Regions from separate parts of the Homo sapiens genome. Here all the other regions are linked to region 1. Evidence: fine-mapped expression QTL. A gene starts in region 1. Each other region holds a variant in brackets. All regions are shown on one strand. Distances are from middle to middle. Region 1 holds the start of SLC7A7 (solute carrier family 7 member 7). Region 2 overlaps SLC7A7 (solute carrier family 7 member 7). Region 3 overlaps SLC7A7 (solute carrier family 7 member 7).

The links. PIP is the estimated chance that this variant, and not a neighbour inherited with it, causes the effect.
Region 2: its variant is fine-mapped to the expression of SLC7A7 in whole blood (INTERVAL, PIP above 0.99).
Region 3: its variant is fine-mapped to the expression of SLC7A7 in whole blood (TOPMed, PIP above 0.99). The same link has a PIP of 0.9 or more in blood mononuclear cells.

Annotation. Positions count from the first base shown.
Region 1 is chr14:22,811,544-22,817,825 of GRCh38, reverse strand. It overlaps SLC7A7 (solute carrier family 7 member 7), which reads left to right and starts at 2,391. Exons shown (of 10, transcript NM_003982.4): 1 at 2,391-2,506; 2 at 4,386-4,926. The coding sequence starts at 4,428. RefSeq lists enhancers at 2,302-2,401, 2,590-3,096 and silencers at 4,404-4,463, 4,484-4,543.
Region 2 is chr14:22,779,119-22,785,400 of GRCh38, reverse strand. SLC7A7 (solute carrier family 7 member 7) reads left to right here. Exons shown (of 10, transcript NM_003982.4): 3 at 5,350-5,475. Among named protein-coding and RNA genes, the nearest start is that of OXA1L, 16 kb to the right of the region's middle. RefSeq lists a silencer at 1,794-1,964. The variant C/G (reference allele first, on the strand shown) is at 3,464.
Region 3 is chr14:22,787,230-22,793,511 of GRCh38, reverse strand. All of the region lies in intron 2 of SLC7A7 (solute carrier family 7 member 7), which reads left to right. Among named protein-coding and RNA genes, the nearest start is that of OXA1L, 24 kb to the right of the region's middle. The variant G/A (reference allele first, on the strand shown) is at 3,022.

The sequences.
Region 1 (6,282 bases):
TTCCCCCAGGTAATTCATGTAGATAATTCCTGTCCAAAAGCAAGGTCTAAGGTGGCATCGGTGGCTCACGCCTGTAATCCCATCACTTTGGGAGGCAGAAGCAGGTGGATCAGTTGAGGCCAGGAGTTCAAGACCGGCCTGGCCAACATGGCAAAACCTCGTCTCTACTAGAAATACAAAAATTAGGCTGGGCACAATGGCTCATGCCTGTAATCCTAGCACTTTGGGAGGCCGAGGTGGGCGGATTGCCTGAGTTTAGGAGTTTAAGACCATCCTGGTCAATGTGGTGAAACCCCGACTCTACTAAAAACAAAAAAGATTAGCTGGGCGTGGTGGTGTGCACCTGTAATCCCAGCTACTCGGGAGGCTGAGGCAGGAGAATTGCTTGAACCCAGTAGGTGGAGGTTGCAGTGAGCCGAGATTGCACCACTGCACTCCAGCCTGGGCGACAGAGTAAGTGTCTGTCTCAAAATAAATAAAATAAAATAAAATAAAATAAAATAAAAATACCGAAATAAAAACACAAAAATTAGCCAGGTGTAATCCTAGTTACTCAGGAGGCTGATGCATGAGAATTGCTTGAACCAGGAGGTGGTGGAGGTTGCAGTGAGTCAAGATCGTGCCACTGCACTCCAGCCTGGGGGACAGAGTGAGACTCTGTCTCAAAAAAAGAAAATAAATAAAAAAAAAAAAAAATAAAAGGAAGGCCTAGAGACTAAGGCAGGCCAGGGGGATGGGGAGATGGAGAGATAGTATACTTGTGTGATTAAGAGTATATGAGCTCTGGAGGTTCCATGAGATAATGTGCTTAAGTCCTTAGCAGTGTGTCTGGCCCAGTAAGTGCTCAATAAGTGATAGCAATTATTATTACAGGAGCATTTTGGAGAAAAGGAGAGTCTCCTCCAGAAGGATTTCAGATCATTGTGAGCCTGTCTTGGGAGAAGCATGATCTCTGGGAACGCTCACACCAGAATCCTCCTCCTAGATTAAATTAAAAGTTTAAAGAGCTAGAATGGGAGGATGTATGGTAGAGATGTCTCCCAGAGATATTTAGATCTCTATTCTCTGGTTGTAGAATAACCAAAGAGGGTTAGAACAGATAGGAGAAGAAACAGACAGTTGGATTTCAGAATGGATAGGGTCTATTTCTGTTGGTAAAAGAGACTCAGAATACCAGATTTAAAGTAAATAATAAAGATAGCATAAACTATGTGATTTCCAAAAAGTGCTCAGCTTCCTCTGCCTGTTCTGGGCCTGTCTGTCCAACAGAATTCAGTGAAATCTGATTTCCTCATATTCTTTTTTAATTTTTTTTTTTTGAGATGGAGTCTTGCTGTGTTGCCCAGGCTGGAGTGCAGTGGCCTAATGTGGGTTCACTGCAAGCTCCGCCTCCCGGGTTCATGCCATTCTCCTCATTCTCCTGCCTCAGCCTCCCGAATAGCTGGGACTACAGGTGCCCGCCACCACGCCCGGCTAATTTTTATTTTTTTGTGTTTTTAGTAGAGACGGGGTTTCACCGTGTTAGCCAGGATGGTCTTGATCTCCTGACCTTGTGATCCGCCTGCCTCAGCCTCCCAAAGTGCTGGGATTACAGGCGTGAGCCACCGCGTCTGGCCTGATTTCCTCATATTTTTTAGGAAAGTGGAGTCAACTTATATTTGAGGAAGGCGTTTATAGGAATTTATGCTTATCCCAGAGATCTTGGTATGTTTTGTCAAGAATGAAAAGGCACGTGGGTCTGGTGGGGATGCAGTCAGATATTTGATCTCTTGACTGTGTTTCTTTTGAAGTAGTCTGAGGCTCAGACTTTGGGGCAGTGGCCCAGGCTTGGAGGCAACCCCCCAGTCTCTCTTTGCATGGGGAAGTGTGCAGAGTTCTCTTAGAACACCCAGTCACATGGTGTAGAGACTGCTCTTACACTTCCTGTAATCTCAGCATGGGAACAAGCCTTTGTGTCACACTGTGCAACCTTCCTCCCTTTCTTAAATGCTTGGGGTGAGAGAGAAGAGAGGCTAGGGTGGGGCATGGAGGACACAGAGAGAGAGAGTGCTGTGTATTCCTTCCCCGCTACTGTCCTGTCCTCAGCTAACTTGCTCTGGGACAGCTTCCCCAGGGCTACAGATACTGCACTCAGCTGACTGTCCTTTCTTCTGGGCCCCTGGTCCCAGAGCAGAGCTGACAAAGGAGATTCCTGAGAGAGCACCTTCTTATCACAGAAAGTGCTGAGCCAAGAGCTCCTAGCTGCCCCTTTTGCAGATGTGAAGGGCCAGTGAACCTTGGACCCAGATGGTTGCTTAATACTCCTTTCCCCCTCCCTCACTCCTTCCTTTGCGGGCTGCCTCACCTCCTCCACCCTTCTTGCTTAAATCCATAGGCATTTGTCTGGCCTTCCCTTTTACTGCTGGCTGGGAAGGAGGAGCATCAGACCACAGATCCTGGAAGGCACTTCTCTCCCTGACTGCTGCTCACACTGCCGTGAGAACCTGCTTATATCCAGGACCAAGGAGTGAGTGTGCGTTCCACCCTCTTCTCATCTCCACTTACCTTGCTAACCCTCCTCTTTGCTGCTGTGCAGTGTCTAATCGCTTCTTCTCCCGAGTGCCTCTCACCCTAACATCTCTCCATTGCTTGACTAGCCTCTCCCATTTTCCTCTCAGCTGTCTCCTGTTCGGTGTTTTCCAGCATGTGCTGCCTGGCTGCAGCTGTCTCCCTGCCTTGGCTCGGGGTGATATCTCTCCAGCAGCAACTCTGGGGTAGGGAGTGGCCATCAGCTGCCTCCAATCATCCCTAGGTTTTATGGTACATTGGATCGCCCTTCTCTCATTCATACTTTTTTGGGTGATTCAACGATGCTGATGTGAGGGATCGATAGCAGGAGGCTTAGAATACCAGAGAATGGGAAAGGAAAAGCAAGGAAAAGATAATAGCCTGTCTTCTTTCAGGGTGAAGTGGGTCTACTTGGGCTTTGCCAGGGCTGAAGACTCCAGCTAAGGGTTAAGGGATGCTCTTTGGGCAGGAGGATGGTTGTGGGTTTCCAGCAGGTTTCTGAAGCCTTTAGTTTTGGCAGACGTAGAGTCCTTGGGGAAAAGAGCAGTGTCATGAGACGCTCCCACAGATTAGCTGCTGGTAGGGTCAGTTCCTAATGTTGTACCTCAGCACAGGTGATCCCTGAAGCTGAAATTGGAGGGAAGACGGGTTTTGGATAAGGCTGAAAACTCGGGGTCAAGCCATTATAGTTATTTTCTGGGAGCCGCCACACTGCCCCCATGCCTGTCTTGTATTATAGCAGGCTCAGAGAGAACCAACATTTAGTGTTTTGTTTTTGATTTTGTTTTTTTTTTGAGACAGAGTTTTGCTCTTGTTGCCCAGGCTGGAGTGCAATGGCCCAGTCTTAGCTTACCGCAACCTCTGCCTCCCGGGCTCAAGTGATTCTCCTGCCTCAGCCTCCCAAGCAGCTGGGATTACAGGCATGTGCCACCACGCATGGCTAATTTTTGTATTTTTAGTAGAGACTGGGTTTCTAAATGTTGGTCAGGCTGGTCTCGAACTCCCGACTTTAGGTGATCTGCCCGCCTTGGCCTCCCAAAGTGCTGGGTTTACAGATGTGAGCCACAGCGCCCGGCCCAAGATTTAGTTCTCTATTTGGTGAGTCGGGTGGGCAGCAATGTCCTAATGATGAGAGACAGATCCTTTCTCTCTGGCGAATGAGTGCCTTCTCTTAAAAATTCAAGTTGGAGGCTGGGCAAGGTGGCTCACGCCTGTAATCCCAGCACTTTGGGAGGCCGAGGCGGGCGGATAACCTGAGGTCGGGAGTTTGAGACCATCCTGACCAACATGGAGAAACCCCATCTCTACTAAAAATACAAAATTAGCTGGGTGTGGTGGTGCATGCCTATAATCCCAGCTACTTGGGAGGCTGAGGCAGGAGAATCACTTGAACCCGGGAGGCGGAGGTTGCAGTGAGCTGAGATCGCGCCATTGCACTCCAGCCTGGGCAACAAGAGCAAAACTCCATCTCAAAAAAAAAAAAAAAAAATTAGCCACGCGTGGTGGCAGGTGCCTGTAATCCCAGCTACTTGGGAGGCTGAGGCAAGAGAAGCGCTTGAACCCGGGAGGCTGAGGTTGCAGTGAGCCGAGCCGAGATTGCACCACTGCACTCCAGCCTGGGCTACAGAGCGAGACTCTGTCAATAAATAAATAAATACATAGATAGATAGACAAATATTCAAGTTGGGGTTGTTTTGATGAGTGAGCTGGAGAAAAGGTTATTTGGAGGTCTCCGCATTGGTTGGTGAGCTGCCCGTATTACCCTGTGTTGGAGGCGGGTAGAGGTTCTATGTAATTGCCAACCACCTAATCTATAGCATCATCTTTCTTCCTTAAAGGGCAATGCCAGGAAGCTGGTGAAGGGTTTCCTCTCCTCCACCATGGTTGACAGCACTGAGTATGAAGTGGCCTCCCAGCCTGAGGTGGAAACCTCCCCTTTGGGTGATGGGGCCAGCCCAGGGCCGGAGCAGGTGAAGCTGAAGAAGGAGATCTCACTGCTTAACGGCGTGTGCCTGATTGTGGGGAACATGATCGGCTCGGGCATCTTTGTTTCCCCCAAGGGTGTGCTCATATACAGTGCCTCCTTTGGTCTCTCTCTGGTCATCTGGGCTGTCGGGGGCCTCTTCTCCGTCTTTGGGGCCCTTTGTTATGCGGAACTGGGCACCACCATTAAGAAATCTGGGGCCAGCTATGCCTATATCCTGGAGGCCTTTGGAGGATTCCTTGCTTTCATCAGACTCTGGACCTCCCTGCTCATCATTGAGCCCACCAGCCAGGCCATCATTGCCATCACCTTTGCCAACTACATGGTACAGCCTCTCTTCCCGAGCTGCTTCGCCCCTTATGCTGCCAGCCGCCTGCTGGCTGCTGCCTGCATTTGTAAGTGGGGCTGGGGTAGGAGGTGGTGGGTGGAGGGCTGGACAGAGGCTGGGATGTGAGTGCAGTCTGGGAGTAAGAAGGAGATAGAGAGGAATGTCTCTGACAACATATATATATATATATATAGTTAAAGTATGCTTTGTGTGAAAATTCAAACAGTACCACAGTGTATCGCAAAAACACTCACCTTTTCCCCAGCTTCTCACAGTAAGCACTATTAGCAGTTTGCATATTCTTCCTGATTTTTTTTTTTTTTTTTTAAAGAGACAGGTATTTTGCTCTGTCACCCAGACTGGAGTGCAGTGGTGTGATTATACCTTACTTCAGCCTCGAACTTCTAGGCTCAAGCTATCCTCCTGCCTCAGCCTCCTGAGTAGCAGGGACCACAGGCACACTGATTTTTTTTTCTTGTTCCTTCAAGAGATGTAGTTTTGGCAGGGTGTGGTGGCTTATGCCTGTAATCCCAGCACTTTGGGAGGCTGAAGTGGGCAGATCACCTGAGGTCAGGAGTTCGAGACTAGCCTGGCCAACATGGTGAAACCCCATCTCTACTAAAAATACAAAAATTAGCTGGGTGTGGTGGCAGGTGCCTGTAATCCCAGCTACTCAGGAGGCTGAGGCAGGAGAATCGCTTGAACCCAGGAGGCAGAGGTTGCGGTGAGCCAAGATCGCACCACTGCACTCCAGCCTGGGCAACAGAGTGAGACTCTATCTCAAAAAAATAAAAATAAAAAAAAAAGAGGTGTAGTTTTGTTCTTTTACAAAAATGAGGTCATACTAGTCTACATGTAATTCTACAGTGTGCTTTTCCTCTAGCATTATCAGTGACATTCTTTTCTACTTACAGATCTACTTTTTAAAAAATGCTTCATATTATTTCATGTGAATTTTAAGGATGCATAGTAGTTTATTTATCTAGCTGGTCCTCTGTTAATGGCCATGTACGTTGGTTTCAGTTTCTCAGTCTTACAGATAATGCTCCAGTGAATATCTTTTTGCAGCTGCATGAGTATTTCTGTAGGCTGGATTCTTCCTTTTTTTTTTTTTTTTTTTTTGAGATAGAGTCACTCTGTCGCCCAGGCTTGAGTGGTGCAATCTCAGCTCACTGCAACCTCCATCTTCTGGGTTCAAGTGATTCTCCTGCCTCAGCCTCCCTAGTAGCTGGGATTACAGGCATGTGCCACCATGCCTAGCTAATTTTTTTGTATTTTTGGTGGAGACGGGGTTTCACTGTGTTGGCCAGGCTGGACTCGAACTCCTGAGCTCAAGTGATCTACCTGCCTTGGCTTCCCAAAGTGTTGGGATCACAGGCGTGAGCCACTGCACCCGGCCTCTGTGGGCTAGATTTTTAATACT
Region 2 (6,282 bases), 32 kb after region 1:
TTTAGCTTCATTCTGTGTGGAGACAGAGGAGGGGTCTGGCACTACTGGTAGAAGCTGGGAGGAAGACGCTGTTGGCTTAGTAAAAGGAAGAGCTATAGATCACTTTATTTTATTTTATTTTTTGAGATGGAGTCTCACTGTGTCACCCAGGCTGGAGTGCAGTGGCGTGATCTTGGCTCACTGCAATTTCTGCCTCCCGGGTTCAAATGATTCTCCTACCTCTGCCTCCAAGTAGCTGGGATTACAGGCATGCGCCACCACACTCAGCTAATATTTATATTTTTAGTAGAGACGGGGTTTCGCCATGGTGGCCAGACTGGTCTCAAACTCCTGGCCTCAAGTGATCTGCCCGCCTCAGTCTCTCAAGGTGCTGGGATTACAGGCGCGAACCACCGCGCCTGGCTCTATAGATCACTTTTAAAATGGAATGACGCCGGGCATGGTGGTTCACGCCTGTAATCATAAGTTTTGTGTGTTACATTGTGTGTATTTAAAGGTAATAGTGCTTACAGAATTGTGGGTTTAATGTTCTTTTTCAGGAAATGTTTCATTTAGGTGTCTAAACTAAACCTGAGCATCTGATCCAGAGTGGGCCTGCAAGCTTTGTTCTGTTCTGGATCCACCTGGTCTGGTGCTTTCTGGCTTTTAGTTCTAGCGCTGATGCTGGGCCTTACCACTAGAACTAGTCTCCTACTCCCGGGGACCGTATGTAGGCTGGGTTTGATGATCCATTCAGGAACATCTTTTTAGATGGTTATAGGAGTGACTTCTCTTTTTTTTTTTTGAGATGGAGTCTTGCTCTGTCACCAGGCTGGAGTGCAGTGGTGTGATCTTGGCTCACTGCATCCTCCGCCTCCTGGGTTCAAGTGATTCTCCTGCCTCAGCCTCCCAAGTAGATGGGACTACAGGCACACACCACCATGCCCAGCTAATTTTTGTATTTTTAGTAGAGACAGGGTTTCACCATGTTGGCCAGGATGGTCTCGATCTCTTGACCTCGTGATCTGTCCACCTCGGCCTCCCAAAGTGCTGGGATTACAGGCGTGAGCCACTGCACCCGGCCACGAGTGACTTCTTTGCAGATTCTTTTTTTCTCCCCCTGGGGTCAAAGCAGGAGTGCTGCTGCACCGAGTCAAGGGTCAAAGGTGATTTCAGGTTATCCTCTTATAGACTTGGCCCAGTGTTGGGTGGGGATTGAATTGCCCCTAGAGGTAGAAGGGGAGGGCATCTCTGCCCTTGAGGTTAACTTGCAGTTGCCTCCATATTATCCTAACCCCATGGTCCCCTCCTGTCCTTGGCCCTGAAGCAGGAGGTTGGGCTCCACTTCAAGAGCAGTGCACTTAGCTGGGCTCTGGGGCCAGTGGTCAGCTGTATCCGCTGAGGTGGGGACAAAAAGCCCTGTCAGCACTGCTGCCTGCCATACCCATTTCCTGCTCCCACAGTCAAGAGGCCCTGGAGGAAGCTAGGCTTTGAGGAAGAGGAGGGCTAGCTCTCTTCAGGCAGTTCCCTCTGCTCCCTGGTTTCTTTCTGTAGGATTCCCTTCCTCATTCAAACTGAGCCTTCTGTGCTCAGTACAGAGAGCAGATCAGGGCTAGAAGGTGGGTCAGAGAAATCAGGCTCAGGAGTGGGGGAGGTGGGATACTGGTGGACAAAGAGAGGGATACAAATGGATGGATAGAGAAGTAGAGAAGAGACTGGGCACGCCACGCCGGTGACTCACACCTGTAATCCCAGCACTTTGGGAGGCTGAGGCAGGCGGATCACCTGAGGTCAGGAGTTTGAGACTAGTCTGGCTAACATGGCGAAACCCTGTCTCTACTAAAAATACAAAAATTAGCTGGGCATGGTGTTGAATGTCTGTAATTCTAGCTACTCGGGAGGCTGAGGCAGGAGAACCGCTTGAACCCAGGAGGCGGAGGTTGCAGTGAGCTGAGATCGCACCACTGTACTCCAGCCTGGGGGACGGAGCAAGACTGTCTCGAAAAAAAAAAAAAAAGAAGTAGAGAAGCAATAGGGATTAAAATGTAAACAAGCCACCCAGGTGCCATGGCTCTTCCCTATAATCCCAGTTACTCCTCAGATAGCTGAGGTGGAAGGATTGCCTGAGGCCAGGAGTTCGAGACCAGCCTGGGCCACATAGCAAGACCCCGTCTCTAAAAAAATTAAAACAGCCAGGCACGGTGGCTCACACCTGTAATCCCAGCACTTTGGGAGGCTGAGGAGGGCAGATCACAAGGTCAGGAGTTCGAGACCAGCCTGACCAACATGGTGAAACCCTGTCTCTACTAAAAATACAAAAATTAGCCAGGTGTGGTGGTGGGCACTTGTAGTCCTAGCTACTCAAGAGGCTGAGGCAGGAGAACTGCTTGAACCCTGGAGGCAGAGGTTGCAGTGAGCTGAGATCGCACCACTGCACTCCAGGCTGGGTGACAGCAAGACTCCATCTCAAAAAAAAAAAAAATTAAAACAAATTAGCTGGGCATGGTGGTGCACACCTTTGATCCCAGCTACTAGGGTGGCTGAGCTGGGAGGATCCCTTGAGCTCAGGAGTTCGATGCTGCAGTGAGCTATGATTTCTCCACTGTACTCTGGCTTGGGTGAAAGAGTGAGATCCCCATCTCCAAAAAAAAAACAAAAAGGGACGGGTGTGGTGGCTCACGCCTGTAATCTCAGCATTTTGGGAGGCCGAGGTGGGCGGATCACCTGAGCTCAGGAGTTCGAGATTAGCCTGGCCAGTATGGTGAAACCCCATCTCTACTAAAAATACAAAAATTAGCCAGGCATGGTGGCACACACCTGTAGTCCCAGCTACTCGGGAGGCTGAGGCAGGAGAATTGCTTGAACCTGGGAAGTGGGGGTTGCAGTGAGCCAAGATCATGCCATTGCACTTCAGCCTGGGTGACAGAGCAAGACTGTGTCTCAAAAAATAAATAAAATAAATAAATAAATAAATAAATAAGTCAATAAATAAGTAAATAAAAAAAAATAATAAAATATAGGCCGGGCGCGGTGGCTCATGCTTGTAATCCCAGCACTTTGGGAGGCTGAGGTGGGTGGATCACCTCAGGTCAGGAGTTTGCGACAAGCCTGGCCAACATGGTGAAACCTCATCTCTACTAAAAATATAAAAATTAGCTGGGCATAGTGGCGCACACCTGTAATCCCAGCTACTTGGGAGGTTGAGGCAGGAGAATGGCTTGAACCCGGGAGGCAGATGTTGCCATGAGCCGAGACCACGCCATTGCACTCCAGCCTGGGCAACAAGGGTGAAACTCTGTCTCAAAAAGAAAAAGAAAAATAAATAAAATAAAATATAAACAAGCCATGTATTTCCATTTCAGAATCTGCTGTGGTAGCAGGTGGTGAATTGGTTGCTTATCCCTCCTTTTCCCTGCCTACATCCCTGGACAGAACTGAGAAGAACCTTGTGGCACACAGCTCAGACTCTGAGTCTGAACTAGAG[C/G]TAGTCCTGTAAGCTTATTCCAGTTTGGTGTTATGACTCATGGTTACCCTGCAGGGAATCATAAATTTGTATTTGGGGATCCCATTTTCCTGACAATGTGGCAGCATCCTTTGTGTCTGGTGTTTCTACTTGGAAACCTGGCTATGTTGTGGTTATGAGCCAGCCGCAGAGCCTAGGATAAGGGCAGAGGTTACAAGCTGGGGAGAAGGGGCACTAAGCTGTTGAGTGGCTGGAGGCTGGAGTCCAGTGGGGAGTAAAGGATGGGTGACTGGCTGAGGAGGAGTGACAGATTTGAAAGATTTGTGGAGGGCAAGATACAGCCACTTTGGTCATTTTGTGGGGTGCTGCACACTTGTGTCTTAAATTATTAACTTAGCACTGGGGTGGCCTGGAGCTGTGGGTACATTTTTGCCCAGCCCTGTGATAAGGTTTGTTGTTTATTAGGCAGAAAGGCAAGCATTTATATAGGACAGGAATGTGCCTTCTCAGGAAGAGCAGAAAGGAACTTGGGCAGTCAGTAGAATGAGGGTGGTGGTGGAAGGGAGGGTGAGAGAGAGAAGATGGGGCAGCTGTTCTGAGAGGCCAGACTTCCCTGCTTCTCAGGATGAAGTAGCCAGAATGTGGTGAGGCCAGGACACCACAAAATAGGAGGACTAGCGACACCAAGGCCACACCACTGCCAGGAGAACTCAGAGGGTGTTTCTGACTGTGTTGGTGGCCTGAAGTAGGCAAGAACTGTACTAGGCCTCATTCTCTTGACTGGTAAGGCAGGGTGATGTTGACCTTGCCCTTGGAGCCCTTGGGAGAAGGGCTTTAAAGTTAAGCCCTCCTTATAGTGTTCCAGTTGCTGAGCTGGGAAGGAGGGAGCAATGAAGCGATTCGCTATGCTACCAGTGGGAAGATCTGTATTTTTTTTTCCAACTTTCTTCTCGGCCACATTCTGGGGCTACTGGTCAACCTCACAGCATGCGTGAGCCTCCCTTGTTGAACTTCTTCAAGTAATTCAAATTCAAGTCGTAGATTGTAACTTTTTTGTTGGGGGAGGGATAATGGACTTGAGATTCTGATAAAAGCTATGATCCCTTTCTAAGAAAAGATATGAAACTTTTTCTTAGGTATGTCTGTATTCATATGGACATAACACTTTGAAAGAGAATTTCGAGCCTCATGGAGGCCCTAGTTAAGAACCCTGATAAAAGGTACTTTTAAAACCTGTACTTCTGAGTAGAAGGACTGGGGGAATGTGTGTGGCTCTTACTTCTCTATTGTCCCATCAGGAAAAATGCCCTGTCCCCATTCTACAGGAACCACTCTTAGCTGCAAGAATCTTTCCAAGCACAAAAGCAGGCAGCTGAGCTGCCAGGCAGTGGGCAGGAAGTCTGGCCTTCATCCTAATCCTTGGCCACACAGCCTGACCTGCTGGCTCAGCATTGGATAAGTCACAGCAGAACTCCTCAAGGTTAACAGTAATACCACAGAGTCAGAGTGCTGTGTCCTGGAGCCCATGGGGAATGGGAGGTAGGAGGGAGAGACCATGACTTTTCAGAGCCAAGAGCCGGAACAATCACTAATCCTGTACAGTTCCCAGTTGCCTCCCACTGCTGTGATTGGACATTTGGATGTATTTTTTATGTAAGCAGATCTGCAGTCACTTTGTTTTGTGTCTCCCATATAAGGTGCTGGGGGTGGGGAGTATAGAGGCCTTTGTATGATAATGGTGAGGACATTCTGGGGCCCCGAGGGTTCCAGTGCAGAGCAGGTCAGAGGGTCTGTCTTTGGCTGAAGGGTATATATATCTTGGTGACTGGTACTGGAAAAATTGCTTGGGAGTCTAAGGCCCTAGGGTGGTAAGGGTAAGTCACCAATCAGTATTATTTTTCTTTCAGGTCTCTTAACCTTCATTAACTGTGCCTATGTCAAATGGGGAACCCTGGTACAAGATATTTTCACCTATGCTAAAGTATTGGCACTGATCGCGGTCATCGTTGCAGGCATTGTTAGACTTGGCCAGGGTAAGAAATAATATTAGTAGCAACTAATCTTTTTTAAGCATTTTCTGTGAGCCGCACTCCTCTAAGTGCTCTTTGTGCATTATCTCATTTCTTACTATAACCTTATTCGGTGGGCACTATTATTATTCTCATTTTATGGATGAGGAAACAGCCTGCAGAATTAAGTACCTTGGGCCGGGCGCAGTGGCTCGTGCTTGTAATCCCAGCACTTTGGGAGGCCATCGCGGGTGGATCCATGAGGTCAGGAGTTCAAGATCAGCCTGGCCAAGATGGTGAAACCCCATCTCGACTAAAAATACAAAAATTAGCCGGGCATGGTGGCAGGCGCCTGTAATCCCAGCTACTCGGGAGGCTGAGGCAGGAGAATCGCTTGAATCCAGGAGGCGGTGGTTGCAGTGAGCTGAGATCACGCCACTGCACTCCAGCCTGGGCGACAGAGCGAGACTCTGTCCCCCCCCCAAAAAAAAAAAAGAATTAAATATCTTGCCCAAGTTGCTACCGGTAAGTAGAGGAGTTGAAATTTGTATCCAGGACAACTGACCCAAAAGTCTGTCCTTTAACTTCCATGCACGCTGCCTCCCAGAGGAGGCTGATCTTGGCAAAGGGTTGACAGCCATGCCCTGGGAGCTGCCTTTGGCAGATTGTGATAGGAGGCAGGAATCAGGCAGCCTGCAGAGCAGAACAGAACTGCATTGTTTCTATTCTCCAGCTTTTCTGCTCTATGGTGGTTTCTTATCCTAGAAAGCTACCCTGGACCCTTCCTGTCAAGATCCCCATCTATGTCATTAGGATGCAGGGCATTCTGGT
Region 3 (6,282 bases), 24 kb after region 1:
TCTTGTGGCTAATGTTAGTCCTACAAAGGCAATCTAGTCCCCAGGCAAGAAGGAGGTCTGCTTTGGGAAAGGGCTGTTATCCTCTTTGTCTAAATTATAAACTAAGTTTCTCCCAAAGTTAGTTCAGCCTATGCCTGGGAATGAATAAAGGCAGCTTGGAGGTTAGAAGCAAGATGGAGTCAGTTAAGTTAGATCTCTTTCACTGTCTCAGTCAAAATTTTGCAATTACAGAGGCTCTCACCCATGACACCTGAGTAAGCGAATTGGTTGTTTCTTTAAAATTTTTATTTTAATTGGCTGGGCGTGGTGGTTTACGCCTGTAATCCCAGCACTTTGGGAAGCCGAGGCGGGCGGATTACGAGGTCAGGAGATCGAGACCATCCTGGCTAACACGGTGAAACCCTGTCTCTACTAAAGAATACAAAAAATTAGCTGGGCTTGGTGGCGGGCGCCTGTAGTCTCAGCTACTTGGGAGGCTGAGGCAGGAGAACGGCATGAACCCGGGAGGCGGAGGTTGCAGTGAGCCAAGATCGCACCACTGCACTCCAGCCTGGGCGACAGAGCGAGACTCTGTCTTTAAAAAAAAAAAAAAGATATTTTTCTTTTCTTTTCCTTTCTCTCTCTCTCTCTCTCTCTCTCTCTCTTTCTTTCTTTGAGACGGGGCCTCACACTATCATCCAGGCTGGAGTGCAGTGGTGCAATCTCGGCTCACTGCAACCTCCGCCTCCTGGGTTCAAAATGATTCTCCTCTCTCAGACTCCCAGGTAGCTAGGATTACAGGCGTGCGCCACCACGGCTGGCTAATTTTTGTATTTTTAGTAGAGACGGGGTTTTGCCATGTTGGTCAGGCTGGTCATGAACGCTTGACCTCAGGTGATCCGCCCACTTCGGCTTCCCAAAATGCTGGGATTACAGGTGTGAGCCACCACCACGCCTGGTCAAAAATGTTATTTTATTTTCTGAGACGAAGTCTTGCTTTGTTGCCCAGGCTGGTGTGCAGTAGCATGGTTATGGGCTCAATCCTGCACTCAAGTGACCTTCCCACCTCAGCCTTCCAAGTAGCTAGGACCATCAGTGTGCACCACCAAGTCCAGCTAATTTGTAATTTTTTTGTAGAGAAAGGGTCTTGCTATGCTGCCCAGGCTGGTCTCCAACTCCTGGCCTCAAGTGATCCTCACGTCTTGGCCTTCCAAAGTGCTGGGATTATAGGCATGAGCCACTGCACCTGGAGTAAAAGGTTTCTGTAGTCTGAAAGGTAAAATAATTTGAAGGCCATCTGCTATCTGAGAGAAATAACAGCACCTAGGGAGAGTGGAAGAAATAATGTATCAAAGAAGCCAGGGTGAAATTGTGATTTCAAGGTGTAGAGAGTTTCCAGGCCGGGCGCGGTGGCTCAAGCCTGTAATCCCAGCACTTTGGGAGGCCAAGGCGGGTGGATCACGGGGTCAGGAAATTGAGACCATCCTGGCTAACATGGTGAAACCCCGTCTGTACTAAGAGTACAAAAAAATTAGCCGGACGTGGTGGCGGACGCCCGTAGTCCCAGCTACTCGGGAGGCTGAGGCAGGAGAATGGCGTGAACCCAGGAGGCGGAGCTTGCAGTGAGCCGAGATGGCGCCACTGCACTCCAGCCTGGGCGACAGAGCGAGACTCCATCTCAATTAAAAAAAAAAAAAAAAAGGTGTAGAGATTTTCCCAAACCAACATTAGACAAAACAAATGGGGATGCAGCAAAGAAAAGGAAGAAGAGACTTGAAATCTCTGGGTTTAGGTAACAGATATGAGGCGTTTCCAGAGAGCTTATATCTGGACCTTCTGAGGAAACAGCAGTGGTAGAGTATTTTGGAGACACCAGGGTATTAGCAGGCCTGAGTATGCCAGTTGTGGGGTTTGGCCTTCCCCCAGGAATAGTGTGCATCTGACTATACACAGACCCAGCCTAACCTAGAAATGTGCAGTTTTTCTGAGCAACATGTGACCAAGAGCTTGCTCACACCAATTAAGCCTAGGGACTGCTATCCTTCTGCTAATTGCTGTGGGATGAATGATGTCACCAGTCAGAAGATAGCTGAGATGTCTCACTGGTGACGTGAAGTTTAAAGTAGCAAACTGAGTGGCAGGTGGAATTTTCGTCTCTTTGTCAGCTGAAGGCTGTGTATGTGAAAGAAAAAAGAACACAGAACAGAGTTCCTAACCGTAAATTCTAAGATTCTAAGATACCAGAAAGATAAACTCCTGGTAAGGGATAGAGGAGGTTTATAGGGATTGGGAGAGATGTGTATAATAAGGCTTTAGAATGGAAATTTTAGAGGCAAGGAGAAAAATGCCTAGATAAAAGTATAAATCTGGGTATTTTGGAGACTACATAGCAGAGAATAAAGGCAGAGAGGAGTTGCTCAGTAACGCATTTGGAGAAAATGGGATGGAAGATCAGAAATGATGCTTTTGAACTCTTATCTACAAATATTACAAGTAAGGCTAATAAACGTATTTGACCTTTTTTTTTTTTTTTTGTGAGACGGAGTCTCGCTCTGTCACCAGGCTGGAGTGCAGTGGCGCGATCTTAGCTCACTGCAACCTCCGCCTCCTGGGCTCAAGTGATTCTCCTGCCTCAGCCTCCCCAGTAGCTGGGACTACAGGCGCACACCACCACACCCAGCTAATTTTTGTATTTTTAGTAGAGACGGGGTTTCACCATGTTGGCCAGGATGGTCTCAATCTCTTGAACTCGTGATTCGTCTGCCTCCGCCTCCCAAAGTGCTGGGATTACAGGCATGAGCCACTGTGCCCGGCCCGTATTTGACCTTTTACTGAAAGGAGGAAACAATTTCATAGGCATCAGCGATATTTGATTAGAATATGATAATGAAAGAGTATACTTTGTTCAAAAATGATGATTTGCTAGAAGAGCTGGGATTCATGTAGTACATTAAAGAGAGAGGTACATACTTGTTTGAGGATCTGCTATCATAAGGGATGCCTGCCTTCTTTGCATAAGGTCACATTTAGATTCTTTTGATT[G/A]CAGTGAGAGGGAAATTTCAGTACACCAAGATCCAGTGAGCTGTCAAGGGTTTCACTTCCCCTTTCTCCATTTTTCAACAAATGTAATGAATAGTACCACCCAGTGCTACTTCCAGTTTTCTGCCTGCAGTTAGGTTTTTTTTTTTTTTTTTTTTTTTTTTTTGAGACAGTCTTGCTCTGTCACCCAGGCTGGAATGCAGTGGTGCAATCAAGGATCACTGCAGCCTTGACCTCCCCAGGCTCAAGCAATTCTCCCACCTTAGCCTCCTGAGTAGTTGAGACTACAGGTGCACGCCACCAGGCCCAGCTAATTTTTGTATTTTTTGTAGAATCAGGGTTTCTCTATGTTGCCCAGGCTGGTTTCAAACTCCTGAGCTCAAGGGATCAGCCCACCCTGGCCTCCCAAAGTGCTGGAATTACAGGAGCGAGCCACTGTGCCCAGCCAACATATGAGTTTTCTATTGCTTCTCTAACAAGTTACCACCAATTGAGTGGCTGAAAACAACACAAATTTATCATCTCATAATTCTGGAGGTCAGAAGTCTGAAATGGGTCTCACTGGGCTAATATGAAGTAGCACTGTGTTTCTTTCTGGAGGCTTAAGGAGAGGATCCATCTTCTTGCCTTTCCCAGCTTCTAGAGTCTCATGGACCCTTCCATTTTCAAAGTCAGCAGTAACTGGGAGAGTCTTTCTCATATTGTACTACTCTGACATTGACCTTTCTGCCTCCCTCTTTCATCTTTAAGAACTTTTGTGATTACATTGGGCCCACCCAGAGAATACAGAATGATTTCCCTGTTTTGTCACTTGATTAGCAATCTTCATTCTGTCTGCAACTTTTTTCTTTTTTTTTTTTTTTTTTGAGCCAGAGTCTTGCTCTGTTGCCCAGGCTGAAGTGCAGTGGTGTGATCTTGGCTCACTGCAACCTCCGCCTCCTGGGTTCAAGCAATTCTCCTGCCTCAGCCTCCTGAGTAGCTGGGATTATAGGCACCCACCACCACACCCAGCTATTTTTTGTATTTTTAGTAGAGACGGGGTTTCACCGTGTTGGTTAGGCTGACTCATGTTGGTTAGAATTCCTGACCTCAGGTGATCTGCCCGCCTTGGCCTCCTAAAGTGCTGGGATTACAGGCATGAGCCACTGCGCCTGGCCTCTATCTGCAACTTTAATTCTCCCTTGCCATGCAATATAACATGGCTCACAGGTTCCAGGGATTAGGGGGTGGACATCTTTGGGGGGCCATTAGTCTACCTACCACAAGTGATAGCCCAGCTTTCCACCGGAGGTGGATGAGCAGCACTCTGAAGTGATAACTTAAGGTGGATTCTTGCCCAAATTCTAGGCTTGTAAGTTAAATCTGGTTAGTGAAGTACGAGCAGAAGGGTGGGAAATCATTAGTAACGTGTATGAATTCACTAAGAACAAGCCATACTCTGCTAACCTCACTTTTTGGTTCAATTTTAATTTTTTTATTCAAATATAATATACAGAAGGAACAGTGCAATCTCATAAGTTTATGGCTTAATGAATTGTCACTAGTTGAGCACATGTGTAACTAGCACCCTTGAGCCCTTCTTATGCTCTTCCCAGTCCCTGCCTCTCCACCCCACACAAAGGGAAATCACTATTCTGACTTCTAGTAGCATTGATTAGTTTTCTCTGATTTTATGTAAATGGATATAATCTATATGTACACTTTTGCATCTGGCTTGCTTATTATGTTTGAGATTCTTCTGTATTTTTGTCTGTAGTCGTAGATTGTTCACTTTTTTTTTTTTTTTTTCCCAGACAGAGTCTCACTCTGTCGCCCGGGCTGGAGTGCAGTGGTAGGATCTTGGCTCACTGCAACCTCCACCTCCCGGGTTCAAGCGATTCTCCTGCCTCAGCCTCCTGAGTAGCTGGGATGACAGGTGCCCGCCACCACGCCCAGCTAATTTTTGTATTTTTAGTAGAGACGGGGGTTTCACCATGTTGGCCAGGCTGATCTCAAACTCCTGACTTTGTGATCTGCCCGCCTTGGCCTCCCAACGTGCTAGGATTACAGATTGTTTATTCTTAGTGCTGTTTAGTATTTATTCAATCTACTGTTGCTGGGCATTTGGGTTGTTTCTAGTTTTTGACTACTGCAAGGGTGTAACTATGAATATTCTACATAAATATATACTAATTTGATTTGAATTGTTTGATAGCATCATTAGATTGTTAGAGCAGAGGCATGTGTATGCAGATTTCGGAGAGGTTCGTGGCAAATTCTCATGATATTCTTGTTGACAAGGTAGACTAGATAAAAATAAAGTTTGGTAGATTCTTAGTTGGCTGAATAACATTGTGGAATAATGACAAATACAGAAAGGTCTACAGTGATAGACTATACAGCTCTGTTGATCTTAGTCAACATTTTAATTTTTTTTTTTTTGAGACGAACTCTCGCTCTGTCACCCAGGCTGGAGTGCGGTGGCGCGATCTCGGCTCACTGCAACCGCCGCCTCCCGGGTTCACGCCATTCTCCTGCCTCAGCCTCCCGAGTAGCTGGGACTACAGGCACCCGCCACCACGCCCGGCTAACTTTTTGTATTTTTAGTAGAGATGGGGTTTCATTGTGTTAGCCAGGATGGTCTCGATCTCCTGACCTTGTGATCTGCCTGCCTCGGCCTCCCAAAGTGCTGGGATTACAGGCGTGAGCCACCGTGCCCGGCCTAACATTTTAATTTTTTTATTAAAAAAATTTTTTTTGAGACAGAGTGTTGCTCTGTCACCTAGGCTGGAGTGCAGTGGCACAATCTTGGCTCAGTGCAACCTCTGCCTCCTAGGCTCAAACAATTCCCATGTCTCAGCCTCCTGAGTAGCTGGGACCACAGGCGTGTGCCATCACACCCTGCTAATTTTTGCATTTTCCTTTTAGTAGAGATGGGGTTTTGCCATATTGCCAGGCTGGTCTCGAACTCCTGGCCTCAAGTGATCTGCCTGCCTCAGCCTCCCAAAGTGTTGGGATTACAGGCGTGAGCCACTGCTGCCAGCCCATGTCAACATTTATTTATTTATTTATTTATTTTGAGACGGAGTCTCACTCTGTCGCCCAGGCTGGAGTGTAGTGGTGTAATCTTGGCTCACTGCAACCTCCGCCTCCTGGGTTCAAGCGATTCTCCTGCCTCAGCCTCCCGAGTAGCTGGGACTACAGGTGCCCACCACCACACCCGGATAATTTTTGTTCTTTTAGTAGAGACGGGGTTTCACTATGTTGGCCAACCTGGTCTCAAAC